Linked DNA regions of Homo sapiens: region 2 is linked to region 1. The links come from fine-mapping of genetic effects on gene expression. A gene starts in region 1. The other region holds a variant in brackets. All regions are shown on one strand. Distances are from middle to middle. Region 1 holds the start of ALDH7A1 (aldehyde dehydrogenase 7 family member A1). Region 2 overlaps ALDH7A1 (aldehyde dehydrogenase 7 family member A1).

Region 1 (11,964 bases):
AGCCACCGCCCCATCTGGGATGTGAGGAGCGCCACTGCCCGGCCGCCCCACCATCTGGGAAGTGAGGAGTGCCTCTGCCCAGCCACCCAACTGACTGGGAAGTGAGGAGCGCCTCTGCTCGGCTGCCCACCATCTGGGAAGTGAGGAGGACCTCTGCCCAGCTGCCGCCCCATCTGGGAAGTAAGAAGCGCCTCTGCCCAGCTGCCCACTGTCTGGGAAGTGAGGAGCACCTCTGCCCAGCTGCCCAATGTCTGGGAAGCGAGGAGTGCCTCTGCCCAGCTGCTGCCCCATCTGGAAAGTGAGGAGCGCCTCTGCCCAGCTGCCCACTGTCTGGGAAGTGAGGAGTGCCTCTGCCCAGCTGCCGCCCCGTCTGGAAAGTGAAGAGCGCCTCTGCCCAGCTGCCACTGTCTGGGAAGTGAGGAGCACCTCTGCCCAGCTGCCACCCCGTCTGGAAAGTGAAGAGCGCCTCTGCCCGGCCGCCACCCTGTCTGGGAAGTGAAGAGCGCCTCTGCCCGGCCACCGCCCTGTCTGGGAAGTGAGGAGCGCCTCTGCCCGGCCGCTGCCCTGTCTGGGAAGTGAGGAGCCCCTCTGCCTGGCCGCTGTGCAACCTTCCAAGTGTGAAGTGACAGCCTTGTGTGTGATCTTTTCTGTCTTCTCCAAGTTTGCATTTTTGATGTTAAAGTTTACTTTTTAATTAAAAGTTTTAAATTGGAGAATATATTTTTTAAAAAAATTAGCCAGGCCTGGTGGCGCACACCTGTAGTTTCAGCTACTTGGGAGACTGAGGCAGGAGAATCACTTGAACCCGAAAGGCAGAGGTTGCAGTGAGCTGAGATCACACCACTGCAGAGTGACAGAGTGAGACTCCGTCTCAAAAGAAAAAAGTATGTATGTATAGGAAAACAACAATTTAAAAAAAATTATGCAGCTGGGCCTGGTGGTTCACGCCTGTAATCCCAGCACTTTGGGAGGCCAAAGAGGGCAGATCGTTTGAACTTAGGAGTTCGAGACCGCCCTGGGCAATATGGTGAAACCCCACCTCTACAAAAAATACAAAAAAATTAGCCAGGCATGGTGGTGTGTACGTGTAATCCCAGCCACTTGGGAGGCTGAGATGGGAGGATCCCAGGCCCAGAAGGCAGAGGTTACAGTGAGCCAAGATTGGGCCACTGCACTCCAGCCTGGGTGACAGAGCCAGACCCTGTCTTAAAAAAAAAAAAAAAAAGCAATAACTTTAGGATGGTATGGAATGCAAGCATCACAGGTCACAAAATTTTATACACACCATGTATATATGGATGTACAATAATCACAACTATGAAATAAATACATGAAAGACTGGAAGGAAATGCACCAAAACCTAAACCTAATGAACATTTTGCATTGCAGAGGTTGGGGTAAGGGGACTAAATTTGTTTATCTTATTTACAGCATCAATCTTTTCTAAAAAAAAAGAATATTTATTACTTTTATGATCAGAAATAAATACAAGTAAGTTTTTAAAACAATGAAGGACACTGTTTTGGACAGTATTCTCTATCCAGGTAGGGTGAACTTTACCTAGCACACTGTTTACTTGTGGAAGTGGTATTTTTCTGCCCAAGGATACTTTTGATTGTGTATAATGGAACCCTAGGCCATACTTCTATCCATAATTAAAGTAGAGGAAAGATGTGCTTCATGCTTTACACAAAGACGTATCTTGGCTGATAAAAAAAAAAAGCTTCATCCAACCCAGGGCTCTGTTGGACAGGCTGCTACTCTGCAATCCACCCCAACCCCACCCAACCCCCCTTGCAATCACTCACTCAGAGAAAATACTGCAGCTCAGTAGTCCCTCAGCAGTCCCACACCCAACAGCACAGGGTTTAACTCAAATGTATTGAGGCTTTTCCTGTGCCAGGCTCTCCAGTAAGCACTTTAAATGATTAACTCATTTAACCCTCCCAGGAGACAGGCACCCCCAGTCTTTTCTTTTTACAAGACAAAGCACACTGAGGATGGGGGTAGTGGAAAGGTTGGGAAATCAGGCTATCCTAGTTCGCCTTTACTCTCCCCTTCTCAGGAGCCTAGCTCCCACCTAGTGACAAGTCAGTGTGGCCAGCCCAGCACCAGTCACAGTTCCCACATTTGCTCATTTAACCAATGGTGGAGACTCAGAGACCAAGGAGGCTGACTCTGCCTCACAGCCTGATTAGACAGTCAAGGAACATGAGCCTCTGGCCCTGAGAAAGGGATGCTGCCACTGCTCTTTTTTTTTTTTTTTTTTTTGAGATGGAGTCTCACTCTGTCGCCCAGGCTGGATGGAGTGCAGTGATGCTATCTTGGCTCACTGCAGCCTCCGCCTCCCAAGCTCAAGCAATTCTCCTGCCTCAGCCTCCTGAGTAGGCTGGATTACACGCGCCACCACATTCGGCTAATTTTTGTATTTTTACTAGAGACAGGGTTTCACCATGTTGGCCAGGCTGGTCTCGAACTCCTGACCTCAGATGATCCACCCGCCTCAGCCTCCTGAAGTGGTGGGATCACAAGCATGAGCCACCAGGTGCGATCTGCTGTTGTTCTTTAAACCAGGAATGCTGACCTATTGCTGAGATACTCCCAGACAAATCTGGCAGGGGGATAGAGGAGGAGCAAACAAATATTTCTGGCATAGATCTTCTATTCATTTTCTATTTAATTATAAATTCAAGTAATTTCAGTGAAGAATAGTGTTCACAGCTCAAGTTTATACTATACCAGCACAAAGTTTTAATTCATTTAAATTTATCCATTCAATGAATGGCAAGTACAAAAAAGGCACTACCCTAGAAATATGGCAGAGGTGTTTCCAAAACAGCAGGAGCCCTAGTACAGTATCACAGCCCCCAAGGAGCTCACATTTTAACAAGGCGGCACTGACCTGCTTATCAGATGTTTATGTATCTCATTGGTTACAATAGGCAAAGTGATCTTTTCTGAATTCTAGAAACAAAGGCCATACTTACATCTGCCCAGATTTTCCATGCTTCTCTTGCTTTCTTTACAGTTTCTTCATAGTCTGCCACACTGGCCTAAATTAAGAATTAGGGGGACAGAAAGGGGGAAATAAAGAGAAATGATGATGATCTTCTAGAACACAAAAATATTTTCAGAAAAGAGTTGGGAAATCTCTAGGGTTCCCTAACATTTATGGCTGAGAATGATTCCCACAGTCTATACTTCCAAAAACTAGCTAGAACCCGGTAAAACAGGTTGGTATCCAACTATGCTTTAAAACCTTGCTTTTCAAAGCAAAATCTGTCAGCTTCATCTGGGAACATGTAAGGCATATTAGAAATGCAGAACCTTGAGCTCCAACCCAGACTTCGGAAATCAGAAGCTTCATTCTAACAAAATCCTCAGGTACTTCAGAAGCACTGCCTTAAATGGCCCCCTGCCTAATCTTTCTACGCTTCACCTTTTCTATGGTTCTTTCCTTTTCACGCCCCCACCCAAGAGAGGACAGTCTCCCCCAGACAGTCCTAAATGACAAATGAAAAATAAACACATTATTCTCTTCATTTGTGATTTTATATTATTCTTGACCTGCCTAACTGGCTTCTGCCTCTAAAGAAAGCCTGCACAAACTCCTTGTGTATAATTTGAATTAAACACACACACACACACACACACACACACACACACACTCTTACCTGTCGGACTCTTGCTATTGGCTCGTTGTTAGCAGGGCAATAGGTCGTAATAACCTTAAAACAAAAGGATGATGATCATGTATAGAAAACGTAATCCCTTTTGAAGTAAGGGAATAGACCAAACGGGGAAGAAAAACAAGAGAGGAAAAAATGATATAATACCCAAACTCAAAAAGCTTAGGTTAACTTCTGTTACATATAAACCACTCTACAGAGGTTGTCTTTCATTTCTGACTTAAACATTAGAAACTACCTTTCTGCAAAACTCGCCTCTGACATCTCAATATTAGGCATATAAACAAAAGCCTTAACATAAGCAGTTATTTTGTCTCTTTTTCCATTAATAACAGACCAAACTGACTAGTTTTAGTTATTTCTTCTCTTCCTTACTCTGCCCACCCTCTGCTCAGAGATGAAATGGCCAAGGCAGGAAAACTGTTGGAAAGTCCCGTGTCCACACCAACTGGAGAGGTCTCAGGTCAACAATGAAAGGGAAAATCAAGGCACAGCTAAAAAGGCCTCCAAGAGCCTAATGATCAGATACCACACGGAAATCAGGATGAAACACCGAGGTCTGAGGAGCAATTAAAATTATCTGTATCTCCTACAGCCACTGATTACCAAAAGACGTGTTCCCTCTACCAAGGCAGGTTCATTATATAATATACAACGTCCAACAAAGTTTGTTAACTGTTACATAACATCCTCCTATAAAAAACTTTCTTTTAAAAAAAAATCTGGGCGATAATAACCTTACCTTTCCATTGTATTCTATAAAACATTGTTTTGAGCAGTAATGGGTATCAGGCGCGGTGTTAAGCCCTGGGCAATGGAGAAATGCTGAAAATCCAGTCCTCAAAGGAGTTCACAGCCCAACGTACAACATGGCAAGATTTCGGCACGTCCAAGCTTGCAAACTCCCAAAGAATTCAGGAAGGAAGATAACTTAAAACTACACTGAAGAACGTTACCTGCGGTGCACGTCACAGCTGAAGAGCCAGAGTTAAGCTCTAAATTAAGATCAGTTGCACCGCTCAGTGTGCCACATTTCTCACAAGACCATAGATCCCAAGACCATAAGGTTTTAATTTTTTTTTTTTTTTTTTTTTTTGAGACGGAATTTCGCTCTTGTTGCTCAGGCTGGAGTGCAATGGCACGATCTCGGCTCACTACGACCTCCACCTCCCGGGTTCAAGCGATTCTCCTGCCTCAGCCTCCCTAGTAGCTGGGATTACAGGCATGCGCCACCACGCCCGGCTATTTTGTATTTTTTTTAGTAGAGACAAGGTTTCTCCATGTCGGTCAGGCTGGTCTTGAACTCGCTACCTCAGGTGATCCGCCCGCCTAGGCCTCCCAAAGTGCTGGGATTACAGGGGTGAGCCACCGCGCCCGGTAGACCATAATGTTTTAAATATGCGCGGGAAGTTTAGCCCCTACAGCTCCAAAATGACGTCGATTCTGCATAGCACACAAGGACCTAAAATCTAAGTTTTTGTTTTAAAGGCACCCTACACGAGAAAACTTTTACTGTGGAGCTTCAAAATCTCCCATGCTACTACCGCATCCAGCGCCAGCGGGGAGTCGGTAGGTCAGTGCCCGCCCGGCCTCCTCGAGCGAGCCCCGGCGGCTGCAGAGATTTCTTGAGCGCCCGCGTACCTCTCCCCGGCCTCCCCAGCTTCCATTATACACGCCCTCGTTTTCCTCGCGGAGCCCCAGCTCTTTCAGCCACGCATACTGGGGCTGATTGATGAGGAGAGTGGACATGAAGGCGGCAGGCCTGCTCCAAGGTCCAGAGAGCTTGCTGGTCTTTGCAGCGTGCACACACAGCGCGCGAGGAAGGCGCCACATACTGAGCCCGGGACTCGGGATGAGCCCAAGGCCCTGAGAGCTGCTGAAATAGAGCCCCGCCCCCCGCCCGGGAGAACCCATTGGGCAGACCCGACCCCTCCCACTGGGCACGACCCCGCCACCGCCCCGTCTGCCCCTGGTCTTCCGGAGGAGCCTGCGGCTGAATCCTGCCTGGAACAATGGGAGTGCTACAGGGAGGAGTGGGCTGCTGCCATCTGGTGAAAGACTCCGGGAGCCACAGTTCCAGCTGGGAATTCTTTTCAGCAAAATATTGGCGCTGAAGTACAGTAGGCTATAGCAGGGGTTCTGAAACTGTAAAATGCGTGTAATGACCTGGTCGTCGTGGTAAATGCACATTCTGATTCAGTAAGTCTGGGCTAGGGTCGGAGAGCCGACATTCCTAACCAGCTCCTCAGCGATGGTGACGCCTCTTGTCCCTGGAGTAGGCAACGGAGGGTTTGTATTGGGGGGCGGGGGAAGGGTTGGTTGTTTTCACTGTTTTGGTAGATTACAAATTAAAGTTTTCTAATTAATGATAAATATTAGATTGCTGCATTTCCTCTATAAATATCCTGCCTGGGTATATTCTTACTTTTTTTTTTTTTTTTTTTTTTTGGAAACGGAGTTTCGCTCTTCTTGCCCAAGCTAGAGTGCAACGGCGCGATCTCGGCTCACTGCAACCTCCGCCTACCGGGTTCAAGCGGATTCTCTTGCCTCAGCCTCCTGAGTAGCTGGGATTACAGGTGTGCACCACCACACCCGGCTAATTTTTTGTATTTTTAGGACAAACGGGGTTTCACCATGTTAGTCAGGCTGGTCTGGAACTCCTGACCTGAGATGATCTGCCCGCCTCAGCCTCCGAAAGTGCTGGGATTAGAGACATGAGCCACTGCGCCCGGCCTCTTACTTTTTTTTTTTTAAGATGGAGTCTCGCCCTATCGCCCAGGCTGGAGTGCAATGGCACGATCTCCACTCACTGCAACTTCAACCTCCCAGGTTCAAGTGATTCTCCTGCCTCAGCCTCCCCAGTAGCTGGGATTACAGGTGCACACCACCACACCAGCTAATTTTTGTATTTTTAGTAGAGACGGGGTTTCTCCCTGTTGGCCAGGCTGCTCTCGAACTCCTGACCTCGTGATCTGCCCGCCTCTGCCTCCCAAAGTGCTGGGATTACAGGCGTGAGCCACTGTGTCCGGCCTATTCTTACATTTTTTTTTTTTTTTTGAGACGTAGTCTCGCACTGTTGCCAGGGCTGGAGTCCAGTGGCGCAATCTCGGCTCACTGCAACCTCCGCCTCCCGGGTTCACGCGATTCTCCTTGCCTCAGCCTCCTGCGTAGCTGGGATTACAGGCGCCCACCACCACGCTTGGCCAATTTTTTGTATTTTGAGTAGAGAAGGGGTTTCACTATGTTGGCCAGACTGGTCTCGAATTCCTGACCTCGTGATCCGCCCACCTCAGCCTCCCAAAGTGCTGGGATTACAGGTGTGAGCCACCACGCCCAGCTCTTACTCTTAAAGAATAAAGACAGTTTTGATCAATTTCTTTCATTCTCCATTTCTGTCTTCCTACAATATCCTTTCCATTCATGCATGCCCCATCTCATTTCACAACAACTGGGCCTACCCTGTAAAACGGAAATACTAATATCTCAATCATCATTATTTGAACATGAGTTTAAAATATGCTTGCCCACGCTAGAGTGCAGTGGCAGGATCATGGCTTACTGAAGCCTCGACCTCCGAGGCTCTAGTGATCCTCCTACCTCAACCTCCCAAGTAGCTGGGACTACAGGCATGCCATCACACCCAGCTAATTTTTGAGGATTTTTTGTAGAGACAGGGTTCCCCCATGTTGCCCAGGCTGGTCCGCACCTCCTCGGCTCAAGGGATCTGCCTTGCGCCTCCCAAAGAGCTGGGATTACAGGCTTGAGCCACCACTCCTGGCCCCTTTCATCTCTGCATTCAAACATAAGCTTTATCTCTTCCACCCTTATAGTACAAATGATTTGAACAAACACTCTGCATGTATCAAGCAGCTACCAGAAACTGCAGTTAGTACTAGGCATACATGAATGATGCTTCCTTTTGTAAATGCTACAGTTTTTTCCTGTTAGGGCAAGGACCATCTCTGACTCATCTTTGCATTGCTCCACAGTTCCTAGCATTGTTCCAAGTTTACGCTCACTTACATGAGTATATGAACAAATGAACCAATGAATAACACCGTCGAAGGAGTTGCAATGCCCTATCTGACATTGGTAATCTCTATCAACAACCCTGCTGCTGTCTTCCATCTACACGGAGGACCATGGTGCTAATTTTTCTAATTTTAATTCTCAGACTTTATTTATTTATTTATTTATTTATTTAGAGACGGAGTCTCACTCTGTCCCCAGGCTGGAGTGCAGTGGTGCAATCTTGGCTCACCACAACCTCCGCCTCCCGGGTTCAAGTGATTCTCCTGCCTCAGCCTCCTGAGTAGCTGGGACTACAGGCACTCACCACCACACCTGGCTAATTTTTCAATTTTTAGTAGAGACAGGGTTTCACCACGTTGGCCAGGATGGTCTCGATCTCCTGACCTCGTGATCCGCCCGCCTTGGCCTCCCAAAGTGCTGGGATTACAGGCATGAGCCACCGCGCCCGGCTAATTCTCAGACATTTTAACTGATTCTCATCACTTTCTATCAGCCAACAAGATTATTTGTCCACATATCCCAAAACCACATTCTTCCTTCTCTTCTCTTCCATTCACTTCAACGAAATTAAAATACATAGAGGCACAAAGGATTAGGAGCAACACATAGTGTCATCAAGGAGTGTTGGCTGCCCTCTCTTCAAGTCAAGAAGAGAAGTGTGCCCATCCTTCTGAACCAATTCTGGCTGGCTGGGCACAGTGGCTCATAGCTGTAATCCCAGAACTTTGGGAGGCCAAGATGGAAGGATCACTTGAGTGATCAGAAGTTCGAGACCAGCCTGGCCAACGTGGTGAAACCCCATCTCTACTAAAAATACAAAAATTAGCTGGATGTGGTGGTACACGTCTATAGTCCCAGCTACTTGGGAGGCTGAGCCTGGAGAATCGCTTAAACCCAGGAGATGGAGGTTGCAGAGCGCCAAGATCATACCATTGCACTCCAGCCTGGGGGACAGAGCAAGACCCTGTCTCAAAAAATAAATAAGCCAATTCTGGGAATATAGGCACCAGCAACTGCTCACATTGAAAACAGGGATTGCATCCTTCTTCTACATCCTTTTTTCAAAACTCCTGTTAGCCCTGCTTAACAGGAGTTCAGGAAAAATCAGAAATGATGAATTGTAATGAGGTTGAGCAGGAAGAGACAGAATTAAATGAATCATATATGAAAGCACTTTGAAAACTGCAAAGCCCTGTAGAAATGAAAATGCAGTGGCTAAACTCAGGACACCTTAAAACAGTTCTGTATTAAAAGTGGCAGAGGAGCCAGGTGCTGTGGCTCACGCCTGTAGTTCCAGCACTTTGGGAGGCCAAGGAGGGTAGATCAGGAGTCAGGGTGGTCAGGAGTTCAAGACCAGCCTGGCCAACATGGTCAAACCCCGTCTCTACTAAAAATACAAAAATTAGCCGAGCCTGGTGGTGCATGCCTGTAATCCCAGCTACTCGGGAGGCTGAGGGATGAGACTCGCTTGAACCCAGGAGGCAGAGGCTGCAGTGAGCCGAGATTTTGCCACTGCACTGTAGCCTAGGAGACAGAGCAAAACTCTTGTCTCAAAAAGAAGAAAGAATTTAATAGACAGGAGGCCACCCATGCCACGTGGGAGACAGAGTTATTACTCAAATCAATCTCTTGGAGAATTCAGGGACTAGTGTTTTTCAAAGATAGTTTGGGGAAGGGATGGAGTGGCTAAGCAATGGGTTCTTGCTGCTTATTGGTTGGGGATGCAGTCATAGGGGTATGGGAAATTGTCCTCAAGCAGCTCGACAACTTCTGTGTGGGAACCCAGAAGCGGTTAGAGGTTCAGGTGGAACCATTGGTAGTCAGACATGCAAAATATCTGAAAAGATATCTCAAAACGCCAATCTTAGGGTCTACAATAGTGATATTATCTGGAAGAGTAATGGAAAAGTTGCATACCTTGTGACCTCTGGGATAATGACTGGCAACGGTTTATGTCTACACCTTAGCAGAATTCAGCCTCCTTTATCCGTCTACCCTGGTGGTCTCTTACTAGCTTTACAAAGGCGGTTGGCTTTTGGGGAAGGGTTATTATCATTTAAACTATAAACTAAATGTCTCCCAAAGTTACATTGACAGGCCCAAGCACAGGAATAATTAAGGGCAGCTTGAAGGCTAAAAGCAAGATAGGGGTTGGCTAGATCAGATCTCTCCCACTGCCATAATTTTCTCACTGTTATAATTTTCGCAAAGGCGGGTTCCAAGATAACCCTTAAAGAATGGGGTGGGTTGAGGGAAGGGCCTCTCAGGCCGAGTGAACAGCAAATGCAGAGGCCTGGCCTGAGGAACAACAGGTTCAGCGCGCCAGCGGTTAGGCAGGGGGACACACTAGGACCAGTGACCAGATGCCCAGTCCACATGACCTTGTTTGCCATGTGGCAAAGTAAAACAGAGGTTCCTCTTCAAAAACTTTCCTCCCCGTCTAATTAGGAATAAATAGTAACTTCTCTTAAAAGCAAAATTTATTCAAAGATCTGTGCTAACATTCTTAAATATCTGCTAGCCATAATAAAAAAAAATGTACTTTATGTTCTTAGCTCCCACAATTTAGCCTAAATATTTGCCCTGGCATGCTTTTACTAGTCCAAGCAAGCATTAGGTCATAGCCTGTTCCTCTTCCTTATTTAAAAGTGTTTTCATCTTTCTCAGCATTCCACAAGTTACTTCCTCCTTCCTTTGTTCTCCTCTACCTTTGCCTCTTTTAAAAAGTTCTAAGTTGCTAGCCAATCGGGACAAATACAAAATGTGAGGTCCGGTCCAGCCAATAAAAACCAGCCACAGCAGTAAGGTAAACACGTCAGGTTATAAATGACCCTGTCTCCTTTTGTTCAGTGTACTCTCCTGGCAAAACTGCTGGCGAGTGTACCCTTTCTGCAGAAAGTAAAAATGGCCTTATTCAGTAAGTTAAATTTATGTTGCTATTTCTTTACGACACCGGAAAACAAACATTTCAAACACCATGCTGAGAACTCAGTCCTTGTTTTGGGGAGGGATGCACTTGGAAGATTCGAGCTAAGGTACAATCCTCCCTAGGTATCCGCGGGTCATTGTTTTCAGGACCCCCACAGATACCAACATCCGCCATGCTCAAGCCCCTTACATTATGTGGGGGTGCACGGTGGGTCCTTCCCATCCGCAGGTTCGGCATCCGTGGATGGGGAGTGGATACAGAGGGCGGACTATACAGCTTGAAAGGCTTCCCTGGAAGCAATATGTAGAGTGGATTGTGGAGGAGCAAGAACAGAAGCGGGGAGGCTTGTCCAGAGCATACAGGGGAAGGATGTACGGCCAAGGGAGGAATCCCAGACGACCGCGATACGTGACATATTTATGTTTGCACGAAAATAAAGTTTGGAAGAAAAGTGTTGGGGGAACAAGGGATTCATTTTCCCGGGGTAGTTGGAATGCAATGGGACGCCTCAGGCCGCTGGGACAGGCTGGCCTCCGCGCGGGGGCGCCCGAGCAGCCGAGCCGCCGGGCCTTCCGGCTGCCCCGCCGGAAGTGCTCTCCTGACCCGCCGCTGTGCAGCGCAGCGCACCGCGGGAAGATGGCGTTGGAGGTCGGCGATATGGAAGATGGGCAGCTTTCCGACTCGGATTCCGACATGACGGTCGCACCCAGCGACAGGCCGCTGCAATTGCCAGTGAGTGTGAAAGGAGGGTGGGTGATCGTGGCTGGGCGCGCGGAGCCTGGGCCCCGGGGAGCGCGCAGGCAGCGGTGAGGGTGAGGGGTGGGAGCTAGGAGCCCGGGCCAGAGCGAGGAGCCCAGGCTGTCGGGTCAGTGGCCGCAGAAGGGGCGAGCAGACGTCCCCCAGGCGGGCTCACGGAGCCCGGGCTGCGGGGGCCGAGGGGCGAGGGGCGACGGCGGCAGCGGCAGCGGCTGGCCGTGCGAACCCCGAACTGGCTGCTCCCTGCGAGGCGGGGCGCGCGAGCCCTGGCGCCTCCTGGAGGCCGGCTTGCGGCGGCCTCTTAGACGTCTCACCTCCGCCTACCGCTCTTTCTTTTCTAAACTTGGGGCTTCCCCACTCCATCGCCGCTAGGTAACCATAAAGGGGCAGATTTTGCCAAATATGTAGCATCTAGGGACATCAGCCTGAAACAGCCTGTGATGCTCATTTTCTCCCTGAGCCGAAGGGAGACTGAGGCCCAGGAATGAAGTTTATCGCTCACTCAAAGATCTGGTTTTCCATGTTTCCACCGAACCTAGCTTTGTCATGCGGTACCAT
Region 2 (11,964 bases), 58 kb before region 1:
ATAAAAAGCTTTCTGTAACCTTCCTTACTGTTATTAAGCGATACAGACAAGAGAAAAGAAATACATGTTATAACAAACCAGAAATAACCCTGAAGTGAATTTTCTGTAGTGACTATTTAACAATAAGCCACAGTGCAGCTTGCGCTATGCTGCTTAATATGGTAAACAAAGTTCAGCCAAGGATCCTTTGCTGGAGGGAATAGCTTGTCCAGTTAGAAAGCTCCTTTTGTTTCTGAAAGCTACTAAAAAACTCAAGCCCTTCAAGTCATTTTAGCAACTCTGAGGGAACAATTATGCTTTTGTGCACAGACTTTAAAGAAAGCGTTTCACAGAGAAAAATCTTGTTGGTGGACAGAGAGGATGGCACATTGCCCAGGTTTTTTTTAATAAAGATGCAGGACTGAGCAGATGTGATAACTCTAGCCATTTAGTCACAGAGGCACATAGGTTATAAAATGTCAACAGTAGGGCAGGCTTCTTGTGTAGATTAGAAGTTCTGGGAGGCCACAGTGGAGAGAGCCCTGGGAAGGCTAAACTAGCCACAGCTGGGGTGGTTCTGTGCTTCCGGTGAGCAAGAATAAAATGAAATCCCTTGAGGAGGAAAGAAGGCAATGTGTTCGCCAGAAAAGTCATAGTTAAATGTAGAGGTCAAAAAATAAAAGGAAGGGAATGAGGCCAGGGGTGCTAAGCTTACCTGCATTCACAGAAAATACTACATGATTTGTGATTTACCTGGCAGCTGGGGTGGATGGCAGAGAAAGTCAAGGGCAGGCAAATCCCTTCTCTTGGTCTGCTCCTTGCACAGGGCAAACATGAGAATAAAAACTCATTGAGTTATTGCTGCAGGTTCTATGGTCTAGAAGCTATAGAAAATTGTCTGATGCTTTTTATTTATCTTTTTTGTTTTCTTTGAGACGGAGTCTCACTCTGTCTCCCAGGCTGGAGTGCAGTGTGTGATCTCAGCTCACTGCCATATCCCAGGTTCAAGCGATTCTTGGGCCTCAGACAGATGTGCACCACCACACCCGGCTAATTTTTGTTTTAGCATTTTTAGTAGAGACGGGGTTTCACTATGTTGGCCAGCTGGTCTAGAACTCCTGACCTCAGGTGATCCACCCACCTCGGCCTCTCAAAGTGCTGGGATTATAGGCGTGAGCCACTGTGCCCGGCCTCTTTTTTTTTTTTTTTTTTTTTTCATTTCAGGTGGTTAAAATCACTTGATCTCTCTCTTTGGGGCACCTGAAATCTGGATTTAAAGCACCGGGGAAACATTACAATGATTTTGCATAATTTTTTAGGTTGGAACAAATTGTTTCTTCAAGGAAGGAAAAAAAATTTTCAATGAATCGTTAATTCTTTTTTTCTCCTTTTATTTTCTTTGTTGACATTTGGCCAAAGATGAACTTTTTTCCTTTTTTATTTTTATCTATTTATTCACTTATTTTCAGAGATAGCATCTCACTCTGTCACCCAGGCTGGAGTGCAATGGTACAATCATAGCTCACTGCAACCTTGAATTCCTGAGCTCAAGGATCCTCCCGCCTCAGCCTCCCAAGTAGCTGGGACTACAGGCACGCACCACCACGTCTGGCTAATTTGTTTACTTTTTGTAGATTCAGGGTCTTGCTATGTTGCCCAAGCTAGTCGCCAACTCCTGACCTCAAGCGATCCTCCCACATCAGCCTCCCAAAGTGTTGGGATTACAAGCATAAGCCACTGTGCCCAGCTGTTATTTTTTCTTTTTTAAATTAAAGCTTTTAATACTGAGGGATGTAGTATAAAACTAGCATCTGATTCTCTAAGCTTCTCCAGCACAAAATAGGAGCAAGTTGATGTTCCTTTATACTATCCCCAGAAAAGATAAGTCAATGTGTCCTCTAGGCCCCAAGAAAGGGCACAGGGCACAGAACATGTAAATCTTCTCTCCCCTACCCTGTTTGAGATTGTGAGCACAGCTCACCTTCCTAGCTCAAAGCTGAATGTTTTCATGTTAGAAGCATGTTCAGTGACCCACTAAATAGGATCAAATATCTCATTTCATTCAGGAGATTTTCACAGGTGAAAGTCAAAGAATTTAAATATTCAGTGAACAATTTGAGTTCACCAGCTCAAAACAGACAGAAGCTAAAACTCAACTAGAAGATGTTTCCTTCTTCTACACTTCTGTACAGGGGTTCAACTCACTGCAATCCAAGACCAATCCATTCTAGCCAAGGTTCTTGGGTCTGTCGGCTGGCAGAATATGCCACCTCAAAATATGACACTTTGACATAAGGATTATTTTGAGCTGAAGGCAATTGAGAAGATCACGCCCGTAATCCTAGCACTTTGGGTGGCCGAGGCAGGCAGATCACCTGAGGTCAGGAGTTCAAGACCAGCCTGGCCAACATTATGAAACCCCGTCTCTACCAACAATACAAAACTTAGCCGGGTGAGGTGGCACACACCTGTAATCCCAGCTACTCGGGAGGCTGAAGCAGCAGAATGGCTTGAACCCGGGAGGCAGAGGTTGTGGTGAGCTGAGATTGTGCCATTGCACTCCAGCCTGGACAACAAGAGTGAAACTCTGTCTCAAAAAAAAGAAAAAAAAATGTATTGGTCCTTTGCTAAAATGCTATAAGCCCATGTTCCAACCAAACCTTTGAGTTTATTCATCTCTGAGTGTTCCCGCATGTAATTGCAGTGCACATACTAATAAAATTCTGATTGTTTTCTTTTGTTAATCTGTCTATGTCAATCCAATGCATAGGGGCTCAGCCAGAGAAGCTAGAAAGGTAATCAGAAAAAGAATTTGGTCCCTTTCAAAAGTTTCTTGAAGAGACTCCGCTGTCATTAGAGGCAGCTCTAGAGATCCTACCATACCTCCAGTGACCCAGCCTATAGACTCAAGACACAGCCCCGTCTCCTTTCTCTGCTCATTCTTGCTCAATCCCTGGACCTGCCAAACGGGGCCCTAGCCCCCAGACTATGTGGTTTCCCCTAGACCCTGTTTACTGAAGAAATACTCTTTGAATCAGGGTGACCCATCAGTCCAGACCTCTGAGCCTCGCTTAATTAAATGAGTGCCCCAAGGATGGTCCAGGCCTAGACCAGCTCCACACAGAAAGCAGGGAGCTCTAAGCGCTTCCATCAATAACACTGAGAGATGAAGCCAGCTGTACTTCCTGGGTGGAGTGGGGACTTAGAGAACTTTTCTCTCTAGCTAGAGGATTGTAAATTCACCAATCAGTGTTCTGTGTCTAGCTAAAGGATTGTAAATGGACTAATCAGCACTCTAAAATGGACCAATCAGCACTCTGTAAAATGGACCAATCAGCAGGATGTGGGCAGGGCCAAATGAGGGAATAAAACCTGGCCACCCAAGCCAGCAGCAGCAACACACTCAGATGTGGTGTTCCCAGTGTTTCCTGGCTAAAAGTTGGGAATCAAATGCAGGTCTCTTGACAGGCCTGGTGCCATAGATTAAGAATCTGCTGAGCCAGAGCATAGCAAATGGAGAAGAGGCCATGCTGAGCTAGAAGAGGCTTGAAATGTAACTTAGCCTGGAGAGAGAAATGTATAAAGTTGGGAAAGATGGTCTGAGCTGTCACCCATCTAGGGCTAATTGGAGTGCACAGCCTCCAACTAAAGAAACTTAAATTTGATTTTTTTGAAAGTTGTCTCCTGGCCTGGTGCAGTGGCTAACGCCTATAATCCTGAAATGGGAGAGTTCCCTGACCCCCCTCAGAGACGTGTGACCGAATGTGGCTCATCTGTTCGGCCACTGTGCACTCAAACCCCTTAGAGGAGGGGGAGCACGCAGGAGCTGGGGCAAGCGCTTCTGGGCTCTGACCCCACAGTAGCATCTAGGGGTGGGTGCCTGTAACTTCTGAAGCCCCAGTGGGCATATTACAGTACTTTTTTAGCTCTGCCGTCACAGATGGCTTAAGTGTTAACTAGCTCAGTGCCCTCTCCGGGTCCTTGTCCGGCATCCAGGAAGAATCAGGTCACACGGACAAATTGAAGGATGGTAAATGAGGGGGATTTTATTGCCAGATGGAGGTGGCTCTCAGCGGGATGGATGGGGACCTGGCGAGGGGATGGAGTGGGAAGATGATCTTCCCCTGGAGTTAGGCAGACCCACAGCCAATCTCCTCTCCTATCATCCCCAGGCAAACTCCTCTCAACATTCAGATGCTCCTTCCCTTCTCTCCTTCTCTGCTGCACTGCTCTTATGCTCCTCTGCTCTTCTGCTCGTGGAGCCTGAGGTTTGGGATTTATATGGGTACAGGATGGGGGGCATGGTGGGCCAAAAAGCAACATTTGGGCACAAAAACAGGAATGCTTCTTCCCATTTAGGGCCGTGGGTTTCCAAGCTTCAGGGTGGGGACTTTGCCAGGGAACCACCCTCTTCTACGCAGTATCTCCCTGCCTCCTCTCTGTATCACTCCCAGCACATTGGGAGGCTGAGGCGGGTGGATTGCTTGAGCTCAGGATTTTGAGAGCAGCCTAGGAAACATGGCAAAACCCTATCTCTACAAGAAATACAAAAATTCGCCAGGCATGGTGGCATGCGCCTGTGGTACCAGCTACTTGAGAGGTTGAAGTGGGAGGATTACTTGAGCCCAGGCAGTCAAGGCTGCAGTGAGCCATGACCACAACACTGCACTCCAGCCTGGGCAACAGTGGGAGACCTGTCTCAAAAAAAAAAAAAAAAAGAAAGAAAGAAAGGAAGTTGACTCCCAAACAAAATAAGCACTTAGACCAATTTTGGCCATAGGGCACCAGTCTTTGATTTAGATTTGGTCCAATTCATTATTGGAAGAGCTGGGGCACAAAGAGATCAAATTACTTCTCTAAGATCATTTGGCCCCTTAGAAACAGAGCTGTGCCTGGAATGCAGGTGCTCTACCTCCGGGACCTGTGCCCACTCCTCCTATTCCACTCTTCCAGCTTAAGTCCAGGCATCTCTCCTTTCTGCCCCAGAGCAAGCATGGGGCAGTCAAGTACTATTTTGATTCTGACTCAAAATTCTGCATTTAAGGAAAGATCAGTTCTTCTTTCTCTACCTCTTCTCTTCCCAAACAATTCAGTCCTGAAGCCATTAGATGGGTGAGAAGAGTGCCTCCACGTAGAGGAGCTGTACATGGGTGTCAGAGCCTCAACTAGGTGATGAGGGCACTCATGTAAGGACAAGTCCAGCACCATCAGAACCGGAGAGAGGTGGGGAGGGCGTCCTCATGAGATGGGAGATAAGTGATACACAAGGAGTGATCTACAAAAAAATGCATCAAGGGTAGTGAGGCAGGTTTCTCATCAGAGACAAGAGTTGCAGATAGTGAAAGGGAAAACTAAAAAGGAACGCTGTGGTGTTGGATAGGATTCGGAAGTTTTATGTAAACTCACACTTGTCCATATAAACAGATTTATAAATAAATGTAGATGTAAATGTCTGCCAGCTGCAAGGGCCTGGGAGCAGTGACATGCCCACATCAACAGGCATCCCTACACTAGACTCTGGCTTATAAACATGATGCTTTACCAAAAAAGACCTGGGATCCTTGAAGAAACGGCTGATTCTAGGGCTTGGGCAGGAAAAGTACAAACTGAACCTGGAACATCTTGTGCCAAAAAGAAAGGAAGTGCTCAGAGAAGGACAGGAACGTGTTGAAAGGACAGTGAAGCCAGCTTGAAGGGAGTCCTGCTGGCCAAATCAGGGATATAAAAATTTAGTTCGAGCATCAAAGTAAGTAATGTAATAAATGGATTATAACTCATTGGATAAAATAGAAAAATTTAAGTACATACAAATATAAATAAGTGAATCAATGGAAAGTTTGATGGAGAGCAGGACAGGTTCATAGTTTCAAAGTATCTCCCCTCACAAAGACCTATTAATTTACAAAGGGTAAAAGAGATGTTTCACAGGGGAGAACGCTGGCAGACACCACCTTAATCAAGAATCAAAGTTAATATCATTGGTATGGGCAAACGGAAATGACATCACACACTGCCTGGTAGGATGCAGGTGAGAATACGGTGTTTCTCTGTGAGTGTAGGGCTTAAGATGCACAACCTGAATTACATTATGAGGAAACGTCAAGTCGAGGGATGATCTATGAAATAAGTGGCGTGTAATTTCAAAAGCATGAAAGTCAAGAGAAGACTAAAAGAGACTAAAGAGATATGACAACATACAAGGGGCAAAAGTTGAACGGGATCTGAGGATTAGATATTAGTAACACGTTGATAGGATTCGGCTATGTGTCTCCACCCGAATCTTACATATTGTGATCC[C/T]CATTGTTGGAGGTGGAGCCTGGTGGAAGCTGATTGGATCATATGGGTGGTTTCTAATGGTTTAGCGCCATCCCCATAGTGCTGTCTTGTGATAGAGTTCTCAAGAGACCTGGTGGTTTAAAAGTGTGTAGCGCGGCCGGGCGCGGTGGCTCACGCCTGTAATCCCAGCACTTTGGGAGGCCAAGGTGGGTGGATCACGAGGTCAGAGATCCAGACCATCGTGGCTAACACGGTGAAACCTCGTCTCTACTAAAAGTACAAAAAAATTAGCCGGGCATGGTGGCACGCGTCTGTAGTCCCAGCTACTTGGGAAGCTGAGGCAGGACAATGGCGTGAACCCGGGAGGGGAGGCGGAGCTTGCAGTGAGCAGAGATCGCACCACTGAGCGGAGATCACGCCACTGGACTCCATCCTGGAGGACAGAGCGAGACTCCGTCTCAAAAAAAAAAAAAAAAAAAAAAAGTGTGTAGCTCTTCCCCCCTCACTTTCTTCCTCCGGCTCCGACCACGTGAAGACCATGCCTGCTTCCCTTCGCCTTCCGCCATGATAAGTTTCGTGAGGCCTCCCCAGCCACACCTCCCGTACAGCCTGTGGAACTGTGAGTCAATTAAACCTCTTTTCTCATAAATTACTCAGTCTCAGGTAGTTCTTTATAGCACTGTGAGAACAGACTAATACACACATCAATCCTAATTTTCTGATTTTGATGGTTGTAATGTAGTTATGCAGGAAAATGTCCTTGTCTGTGGGAAATATACACTAAAGCATTTGGGAGTAACAGGGCATCAGATCAACAACATTCTCAAATAATTTAGGGGGAAAAGTTCTATGTACTTGCAACTTTTCTTTAAGTTACGATTATGTCACAATAAAAGACACTGCAAAAAAAAGGAAAAGTCAACAATTAAGAGTCAGACAGGGAAGGTGAGCAAATAAGAACTCTGCTATTTCAGGGACACTATTCACATTCACAAGAATACTATGAGGCCAGGCTACTTGGATTCAAATCTCAGCCCCATCATTTATCAGCTGTGTGACTTGGGGAAAGTTACTCAACCTCTCTGTGCCTCAGTTTCCAAATCAATAAAGTGAAGATCATAATAGTATCTATTTCCTAGGGTTATGAGAATTCCATGGGTTTATATTTGCCAAGTGCTTTTAAAAGTGCCTGGAACACAGTAAGCATCATTTAAGTGTAAATAAAACGAATGACCCATGGAGTTATTCAAAATGGAATAACCTCACACATATGCTCACTGCAGGGAAAGAAGAATGGATGGAAAATTTTTTTAAAAAAAGTTTTGTTTTGTTAGGACAGGGTCTCACTATGTTGCCTAGGCTTGTCTCAAATTTCTGGGCTCAAGCAACCCTCCCTCCTCAGCCTCCCCAAATGTTGGGATTACAGGGATAAGCCATTACGTCCAGCCACATTTTTAACTTAAAAGATACAAACCTGCAATTATAGGCAGTAGGAAAGGCAAGTTACCAATGGTGCTGGAAAGTAAAGCAGCTCATAAATGTGGGGCATTGTCTGTTGACTGCAAAAACTTTTCCATGGTGACCTCCTGGATACAAAGTCAACACAACTCACTTCCCTGCTAAACAGATGATTGCTTTGACCAACAGTGACACCTACAGGTCAACACTGTAAAGACAATTCAATTATATCTGAATGTGGGCCAGATTTCTATAACCCTGGAATTGCCAGGCTGTAAGGATTCTCAACAAGCAAATAGCAAACATTGAGTAGTTGTTGGATCTATATTTCTATTTTCAAACCTAATCTACCTTAGGAAGTAACTGGTCTCTGCAGTAATTTATGCATAAGATGGGGAATCCCATTCACCGTAACAACTGAGCCGGGCACGGTGGCTCACACCTGTAATCCCAGCACTTTGGGAGGCCAAGGCAGCCTGGCCAACATGGCAAAACACTGTCTCTACTAAAAATACAAAAATTAGCCAGGCATGGTGGTGCGCACCTGTAATCCCAGCTACTCCAGAAGCTGAGGTATGAGAATCACTTGAACCCGGGAGGCAGAGGTTGCAGTCAGCTGAGATAGCACCACTGCACTCCAGACTGGGCAACAGAGACTTAAAAAAAAAAATCCGAAATCATAAAATATATAGGAATAAACACAAAAGTTGTTAAGACGTTGCATGAAATAAACTGCAGAATTTTGCTAGGAACCATAAAAATTTGATCAAAATACGTATCATTGATGTTTTTAAGATCTAAGTATTATATATTAGTTCTTCCTAACTTATAAATTTGAGTCCAATAAAAATCCCAAAGAAATTTTTTAAAAACCTGGAAAATGTTTCTAAATTTTATTTAGGAAAATAATTAAAATATTAAAAGCTGAAAACGAATGTGGAAAACATCTTAATAACAGTACCCAACATTTATTGAGCCCTTATCATGAACTTACCAGGCACTGTTAACTTTTATAATTTTACGCTTTAATCCTAACAATTGTATGGGACAGATATTATCAGCATCCTCATACAGTGGAAATAGATTATTTAAGCTTAGCAGCATCTGTGTTTCTTACCTAGGATAACAACTCTCATTTCTTTTAGGGGAATTATCTGTCCTTGATTTCAGCATTAGGACTATTAATCCAGGTGCTTTGCTCTCCCCTTGCCAAGGGGCAGGTAAATTACCTTAAAGGTAAATGATCCATGCTAGGCAAATTGCTTGGTCCTTTCCTGCAGTTTTAATTTTGAGAAACAAAAAGCCTAAAAACAGTTGAAGTTCACTCATTCTAGCAGTGGCGTTTCCACAAGACAGTTGATTTTTACCTGTTACCTAGCTAGGTCCCTAGAGGTAAGGAGACAAACTCAGAAAATAGCAACAGAATTCCATCTCCACTTGCAGACTAAAGAATAAAAAAAAGGAGTCATGTTAGTAGAATCTACAGAGCCACAGCAGAGGGGCCATCTAACAGGAGATGTAGACACAGAAAAAGGAATAAGCTTTCCAGCGAGATGTCTCTAGAGAAGGATCTCCTTCATGCCTCTCCAGAAAACATGAGAAGCTCCTGGTGACGAACCAATTCCTTCTTCATGGATGTGAAATGACCAGGATGCTATCAAGTCACCATGCTCTTTCGTCATGCCCAAAGTTGTGTGTGTTGGCTGTTCCACTGTCCTATCAGCCTACAGAAGGACAAGCAAAGCTTACAGAAGAATGTTCCTTAGGAGGAAGCAGCAACCGTGATCAGGATGAATGAGAAATCATCCCAATAAACACGCTTTGTGTACATTTTCCTTAAAAAAAAAAAAAAAAAAAAAGACAGTAACTACCACAGACTGGCAGGGAAGGAGTGGGAAAATTAATACTCTGACATTTTTTTTTCTGCTCTGATTTTCTACCACTGGCCAAACACAATCAGAAGCCAGAGGATAAAGCAAGCCCAGATGAAGTGGACCGTAGAGATCAGTCCCTAAGGACACACTGCAGGAGAATGTCAGAGAGTGGTTCTGGAGAGGCAAATTGGATCTGGGCTTTCCAAAACAGACCATGTTTGCTAAAGCCATAATTGGTTTCCGCAGCTTGCCACAAAGAAACCGAACTGATACAACCCACGTTACAGACAAGAAAATGAAGTTCAAAGAGATTAGGTTACTTTTTGCAGGTCACATGGCTAATATATGTAGAACTCTAAAACAATTTAAGTAGAAGAAATTTAAAAGATCACAGAATCAAATGTTATTTTCCCTGGAGTTAGTAACTGCCCTTTTTATTGCTTAATTTGCTTTGTATGTTTTTTTCTCTTATTGTAAAATACAACATAAAACTCACCATTTTAACCATTTTAAAATGAGCAATTGAGTAGCATTTAGTATATTTGTAGAGTTGTGCAATGACCACCACTATCTAACAGAATCCTATAGAGCCACAGCAGAGGCGACACCTGACAGGAGATGTAGTCGCAGAAAAGGGAATAAGCTTGCCCTTCCGTCTGCACAGGGAAATGGCATTCTATTTATCTATATACACACACACATATACCAATTACTGAATCAGGATACACAGCTAAAAACAGATCCTGTTATATGTAAGAATGCAGTGTACTATAAAAGAGGTATCAGTGTGAAAAGGACAACCCAATTGTCTAATTGGAGTTGAGGAATTATTTTTATTTTTAAAAGGGAAATTAACGTAGACAAATCGTAACATGTACCCCAAATCCAAATGGATTAAAGACAAAAATGTCAATAAAACATTTGTGGACCTTTCCAATAGAAAAAAAAAAAGAGCAAACTCTAACTGCCTACAACATTTTAAATCTAGAATCCTATATTCAATCAATATGGGGATAAAGTTCTTCCCCTTGGATAGGAGAGGTTTCGTTTGGTTTTCTTTTAATTTCCTCCAAAACAATCATTGGCAGGAAGCTTCTGCAGGATAAGCTCCAGGTGTAGAAAAAAAAAAAAAAAAAAAAGTTTGTTGGAGACCATAGGAATTTCATAAAAATATTGAAACTGAAAACACTTAAAAAGCATTCCAAATCAGCTTTCCAATCTGCAACCTTTGTTAGAATGAAGGCAACAAGAAAATGGTCTGAAAGTGCCAGGGAAGAGAAGAGGAAGGACACAGAGCCCTCTTGGTCCCTTCAGCATTTTCAGGAGACAGAATGCCACAGAGAATTTTCCACAGAGCTGGGCATGGTGGCACACTCCTGTAATCCCAACAACTCAAGAGGCTGAGGCAGGAGGATCGCTTGAGGCCACAAGTTCAAGACGAGCATGAGCAATGTAGTATGACCCAATCTTTACAAAAAAAAATAATAATCAGCTGGGCACAGTGGCATGCACCTGTAGTCCCAGCTACTGGGGAGCATGAGGTGGAAGGATAGATTGAGCCCAGGAGTTGGAGGCTGCAGTGAGCCACTATTGCACCACTGCACTCCAGTGTGGGCAAAACTGAGACACCAAAAAAAAAGAAGTGTTCTGTGGTTGCAGAGCAAGAGAGAGAGGAGGCTTAACAGATTCCCACCCTGAAAGAGAAAGTAGGAAGCAGAGTACATAATAGCACTCAATTTCCTTTGAGAAAACTGCCTTCCCTCCATTGTGAGAAGTCTTCACCTGGAGGGCCTGCCTCCTCACTGCTGCAGCCAGGAGCCAGGTCTTCACCCACTTCCCAGGGAGTCACAAGAGCCTGGCTGCTAGGCTCAGCGAATGGATGCTCTCTCCAAGTACAGCAAGATCCTAAGCAAGTTAGGCTTTAGTGCCGTGGCAGAAGCAAGCATGCTGAACACAATTCCCCGCATCCACAATGGAGGCTGGGCATTGCCAGCAGTAGCGGTTGGAACACAGGATTTAGGAGGAGGCAGCAGTTATGAAATGCTCAAGATAACCAGTAATGAGCAGCACAAGACCCCTTGCACCTTCAAATATAAGACCAGTAATAACACTTACAAATGTACATTTTAACTTGGATAGTTAAAAATACTAACAAGTGATTTATATCTGCTAAATCAGCAAAAAAGAACAAAGAGGAACAAATTGAAGGCATATGTTTTAATGAACATTATAACCAAAAAAAATTGAGTCCTTGTGCTAGAAACATGTAGAAGAAAAATTATAAATTTGTTTCAAAGAAAGCTTTCAGAATCAGTTTTACCTAAAATCTATAGCTAAGATTATCACTCCCACATACCCTCACCCATGATTTCTTCCT

The links. PIP is the estimated chance that this variant, and not a neighbour inherited with it, causes the effect.
Region 2: its variant is fine-mapped to the expression of ALDH7A1 in visceral fat (GTEx, PIP 0.96).

What each region holds. Positions count from the first base shown.
Region 1 is chr5:126,589,677-126,601,640 of GRCh38, forward strand. It overlaps ALDH7A1 (aldehyde dehydrogenase 7 family member A1), which reads right to left and starts at 5,543. Exons shown (of 18, transcript NM_001182.5): 1 at 5,331-5,543; 2 at 3,675-3,728; 3 at 2,988-3,053. The coding sequence starts at 5,522. It overlaps PHAX (phosphorylated adaptor for RNA export), which reads left to right and starts at 11,271. Exons shown (of 5, transcript NM_032177.4): 1 at 11,271-11,382. The coding sequence starts at 11,287. RefSeq lists silencers at 7,847-8,010, 11,109-11,318, 11,439-11,688 and enhancers at 10,353-11,202, 11,203-11,964.
Region 2 is chr5:126,531,441-126,543,404 of GRCh38, forward strand. It overlaps ALDH7A1 (aldehyde dehydrogenase 7 family member A1), which reads right to left. Exons shown (of 18, transcript NM_001182.5): 18 at 10,401-11,964. Among named protein-coding and RNA genes, the nearest start is that of ALDH7A1, 58 kb to the right of the region's middle. The variant C/T (reference allele first, on the strand shown) is at 6,277.